2 separate regions of the Homo sapiens genome follow, and region 1 is linked to region 2. A link means that fine-mapping ties the variant in region 2 to the expression of a gene that starts in the linked region. Tissue or cell type: whole blood. Region 2 holds a variant in brackets; the other region holds the start of a gene. All regions are shown on one strand. Distances are from middle to middle.

Evidence for each region. PIP is the estimated chance that this variant, and not a neighbour inherited with it, causes the effect.
Region 1: IFIT2 starts here. The variant in region 2 is fine-mapped to the expression of IFIT2 in whole blood (TOPMed, PIP above 0.99).

What each region holds. Positions count from the first base shown.
Region 1 is chr10:89,300,762-89,303,406 of GRCh38, forward strand. It overlaps IFIT2 (interferon induced protein with tetratricopeptide repeats 2), which reads left to right and starts at 1,285. Exons shown (of 2, transcript NM_001547.5): 1 at 1,285-1,367. The coding sequence starts at 1,363. LOC105378419 (a long non-coding RNA gene) reads right to left here and starts at 1,142. Exons shown (of 3, transcript NR_188200.1): 1 at 525-1,142. It also overlaps a transcript of LIPA not described here. RefSeq lists an enhancer at 993-1,312.
Region 2 is chr10:89,326,877-89,329,728 of GRCh38, forward strand. It overlaps IFIT3 (interferon induced protein with tetratricopeptide repeats 3), which reads left to right and starts at 1,121. Exons shown (of 2, transcript NM_001549.6): 1 at 1,121-1,202. The coding sequence starts at 1,198. It also overlaps a transcript of LIPA not described here. RefSeq lists an enhancer at 889-1,128 and a silencer at 1,449-1,498. The variant G/C (reference allele first, on the strand shown) is at 1,172.

The DNA of each region.
Region 1 (2,645 bases), 26 kb before region 2:
AGATCACCTGAGATCAGGAGTTCGAGACCAGCCTGGCCAACATGGTGGAACCCCATCTCTACTAAAAATACAAAAATTAGCCGGGCGTGGTGGTGCGTGCCTGTAATCCCAGCTACTCGAGAGGCTGAGGCGAATCACTTGAACCAGGGAGGTGGAGGTTGCAGTAAGCCAGGATCTTTCCACTGCACTCCAGCCTGAAAAAAAGAGTTTCCCCTCTGATCACTTTGGTTAACGATTTTAGTTAATAATTATAATAGAAACTAGCATTTACTTATTACTGCCAGGCATTATTCTAAGGACATTTCACGTATTCTCTCATTTCATCCTCCCAACACCACAATAAACCAGTAGTTGTATTATTCCCAATTTACAAAACCGAAGCAGAGACATTCAATAATTTTCCCCAGAGTTTCATAGCATAAAGGTGGAAGCTGATTTCAAATCCAGATAGACAGACATCACTGCCCATGCTTCTAATCATGTATTCATTTAGTCAACAACTACTTTTGGAATGCTTGCCATACCATGCAATGTGCAGGTTGTTTTGCAGGGACTGGAGATTCAGCAATGATTCAGACTAAAATCCCCTGCCCTGTCGAGGCTAAATAACTGCTCCTTACAGTGGCCTGTGGATCATATTGGTATAAGGCAGAGCAAAGATGGGTTAATATGGTAATCACAAGGCAGGGAGCTTTGTAAATGTGTCCTCCTAGGAGTTGTGCTCCCTTGATGCCATCAGTACATTCCACAAAGAGGAAGTTCTTCTAACTCACTACGCAGCTGGGCTTGGCTCTTACTCAAGAGCATTTTGGGGTGAAAATATCTAAGTTTACCAGCCCTTGTGCAAATCTGAGATGAAGGACTACATTAAAAGTAAAATTCACCTTAGCAGGAAGTGGGGTTTGCTATTCTGTGTATATCTTTAACAGTATCTGCTGAAAAGAACCCTTTTGTTAAATAATTGTATTACAAGTCCCCAACTTAATCTTTTCGAATATGAAATAAGAGAGGGACAGTGCACAAGAGCAATGTCCCCAGACCCATCTTTAAGTGAAGCACCAGGCCGATGAAACATCCCTCTCTGCTGCCTTCTTTCTCTGATCACAACTCAGCTCCGGAGGAAAAAGAGTCCTCTAAAGTATAATAAAAAGAAAAAAAGAAAAAGAGTCCTGCCAATTTCACTTTCTAGTTTCACTTTCCCTTTTGTAACGTCAGCTGAAGGGAAACAAACAAAAAGGAACCAGAGGCCACTTGTATATATAGGTCTCTTCAGCATTTATTGGTGGCAGAAGAGGAAGATTTCTGAAGAGTGCAGCTGCCTGAACCGAGCCCTGCCGAACAGCTGAGAATTGCACTGCAACCATGAGGTAAATATTTTCCCTTCGTATTCGGTAGTGCTGTTGAGTCATCTTGTCCAATGCAAATCCTGAGAAGCTATGTTCCCAAAGAGGGCCAGCTCCATTTTAGTGTTTGTTTATAGCCTTACTATGCCTCTACCTCTGTTGGTTGTAAATCTGTCTTACCAATGGTGGTTTGTTCCCTCCTGAACAATTTTCTGCTTCACACTGGCAAGCTTCCTAAATTCATCTCCAGAACTGCACGCCTGGGGAGTTGAGTTGCAATCAGAGAAAGAAGGCAGCAGAGAGGGATGATGTTTCATCGGCCTGGTGCTTCACTTAAAGATGGGTCTGGGGGCATTGCTCTTGTGCACTGACCCTGTCTTATTTCATATTTGAAAGGATTAAGTTGGGGACTTGTAATACAATTATTTAACAAAAGGGTTCTTTTCAGCAGATACTGTTAAAGATATACACAGAATAGCAAACCCCACTTCCTGCAAAGGTGAATTTTACTTTTAATGTAGTTCTTCATCTCAGATTTGCACAAGGGCTGGTAAACTTAAATATTTTCACCCCAAAATGCCTCCTGAGTATGAATTAGAGATGGAGTGCTTGGAGAAAATAGTTCTGTTCTCACCTCTAACATTCCCTTCTATCCCCAAAACATGAGACTGCCCTGGAGAGGAAGTGTTAGCTCATTGAATAGGAAGGGAAATATTTTCTCCAGTTTGAAGGTGGGGTGGCCGGACCTGGTTGCCTAACCCTCATCCTGGGAGCTCTGGAATCCCGTGTTACCAACCCCTGTGCTTACTTCCTATGAGACACCTTGCCCTCTGTCTGTGAGGTTCCTGATTTCTCTTCTTGAAACGATATTATTTCCTGCTAGTCTAAATGTTCTGCCTGATTTCAAAAAAAAAAAAAAAGATTTGAGATATTTACAGATTTCTTTTTTTTGTAGTCACCCAGAATCTATAGAACCCTTTTCTTATTTCTTAGAATTTTAGCATGGTCTTATCTTAGAATTTTTCCCATTACAATACAGACCCATCTGTCCTTTCTTTCCTTAATTCTTTATCTATTGTGACTTTCACTGGGCATTGCCCTTGTGCCCTAAGACAGTGGTTCTCAAAATTGAGCATGCATAAAAATTGCCTGGACAGCTTATTAAGGACAGAGTCCTAGGGTTGACTCCCCAGAGATTCTCATTAAGTGGGTCTGGGTTAGAGTCTGAGGATGTGTGTTTCTAAAAGGCTCCTCAGTGATTCTGAGACTGCGGTGGTAGCATTAGTTCTGAGCCTGGTTGAT
Region 2 (2,852 bases):
GTGACACAGCCCTCAGGAGATCCTGAGAACATGTGCCAGGCCACAACTTGGTTTTATACATTTTAGGGAGACATAAGGCATCAATCAATACATGTAAGGTGTACATTGGCTAGGTCCAGAAAGGTGGGACAATTGGAAACAGGGAAGCGGGGCAGCTTCCAAGTCATAGGCAGATTCAAAGATTTTCTGATTGACAATTTGTTGAAAGAGTTATTATCAATAGAAAGGAATGTTTGGAGACATCCAATAGAAATTCAATAGACAATCATTAGAAAGGAATGTCTGGGTCGTGGAGACCAAGGTTTTATTATGCAGATGAAGCCTCCAAGTAGCAGGCTTCAGAGAGAATAGGTTGTAAATGTTTCTTAATACACTTAAAAAGAGCATGTTCTGGCTGGGTGCAGTGGCTCATGCCTGTAATCCCAGCACTTTGGGAGGCCAAGGTGGTTGGATCACCTGCTATCAGGAGTTCAAGACCAGCCTGACCAACATGGCGAAACCTCGTCTCTACTAAAAATACAAATATTAGCCGGGCATGGTGGTGGGTGCCTGTAATCCCAGCTACTCGGGAGGCTGAGGCAAGAGAATCACTTGAACCCAGGAGGCAGAGGTTGCAGTGAGACGCAATCATGCCACTGCATTCCAGCCTGGGCAACAGAGTAAGACTCTGTCTCAAAAAAAAACAAAAACAAAAACAAAAAAAGAGTGTGTTCTATTAGTAATTCCAAAAGGAAAAAGGATGTAATGAGGCATATCCAGCTTCCCCTTCACATCAGTTTTCAGGTTAACTTTGGAATGCCCTTGGCCAAAAGCAGGGGTCCAGTCACATGGTTGGTGAGTATGGCCTTAGAATTTAATTTTTTGGTTTACATTAGGAATGCTTCCACATTCTCTCAAACAAATTTTAGTCACAGTTTTGAATAACGTACTCTGGCTCAGCCATTGCAGGTCTCAAGCCGTTAGGTTTCATTTTCCTCCTCCCAACGATTTTAAATTAGTTTCACTTTCCAGTTTCCTCTTCCTTCCCCTAAAAGCAATTACTCAAAAACGGAGAAAACATCAGCTGATGCGTGCCCTACTCTCCCACCCCTTTATATAGTTCCTTCAGTATTTACTTGAGGCAGACAGGAAGACTTCTGAAGAACAAATCAGCCTGGTCACCAGCTTTTCG[G/C]AACAGCAGAGACACAGAGGGCAGTCATGAGGTCAGTGAAATAAGAATGCATAATCATGCTTGTTTTTGAGTGCAAATTGTAAGTTGAGTTTCTTACTGTGCAGGCACATTCCTGAATTGTCCTGATGTTTATAGATTCAATATGTCTTTATCAGTCTGAGCATTTGTAAGATGTTTGAGGGGTTTTTCCCTGTGGCTTTTTTTGGTGTACACACAGGCTTCTTAAGTTTCTGGAATGGTTCCCTACGGAACTACATGGGGGGAGGCAGGGTGGGGAATGCATCAGCTCATGTTTCCTCCCTGTGTGCAGCTATTTCCTGCAATGAGAGGAAGGCTTGGCAGGAGCGGTGTATTTCACTCAGCCACAAACTTGGCTGATTCAAGGGTAGACCTAAGGGAATTACTCTTTTGGGTTTTTCTGTTATTGTCATTTTGTTTGAAAAGATTAAGTCACAGGCTTTTTTTCTTGTAATTTTAAAAGGAGGAATTTATTTTCAACAGATATTGTGAAAGATACAATCAGTACTGCAAACCCACTCATGAAGAAGGCAATTTTGCCCTGAAACGTTGCATTACTTTAAGGTGGGAAGTGGAAGAAACAATTCTTACAAATGGGCATTTTTGTCATTTCTTATATAAAAACAAACCCAAAGCTTAGCATTTATTTTTATTGATGTAGTGAATGCTGGTCAGCAGCAAAAAAAGAATTTCTCCTCAAAAGTGTAATGACCTAATCTATTATCTAAAACTAGTCTAATCTCTAATGGTGGGAAGCAGATCAGTGGTTGCCTGGAGATGGTGGGGATTGAGTAGGAAGGCTCCCAAAAGAATCTTTTTAGAATCATAGGAATAGTCTATAGGGAGGTAGTGATGGTGGCTACATATGCATAAACATTTACCAAAACTCATCAGACTATACACTGAAAATGGGTGCATCTTATTGTATATAAAGCATAATCTCAGTAAACTTGATTTTTAAATTTATATATTGACCTCCTGGAGTTCTTCAGGGGATAGCATGTTAGGGAGAACTAAGAGAAAAGGATGCCTTTCCCACCAAGCATCTCTAGGAAAGGAGTGAGGAGGTGATTGCCAGGGAGGGAAGACCCCATCGACCATTCAGGGGGGCAGAAAAGGAAAACTGGATTCCCTACCTTACTCTGCCCCAAGGACTTGAAGATGCTCTGCAATGTCATGTTTGGGGATGAGATGGGTAAGAGGAATTCACTGCCAAATACCTCAGTATATAGAATACCCTTTTATATAGAATAAGTTCCTGGTCAAGAGTGATGTTAATTGTGTCTGTGTGAGTGGGATTGACCAGAGAGCAAGGCGTCTTAGTAGCCAGCTTGCAGGAAAGGTTTTACAGGGTCCTGTCTTTAGGTGTGTCTATAGCCACTGACCTGAGGAGGTCTGAGGGGGGCTCTCTGAACTATGCTGGACTCAGGTTCACATCAAGGTGCTCCTATTTCCAGAGGCTATAGGAACAGGAAGAGATTGGGCTGCTCCTCCCCAGTTGTGCTAAAAATTTCCAAATGGGAAAATCACCTGGAGAACTCACTGGCACGTGCCAGCTGATGGGCATCCTCCTCTGCCCCATCCACTGAGGAACTCTGTTGCTCCCTTTACACACTCACAAATTCACTTAAAATTATAACACAAATATATTAGTACCAGCAAT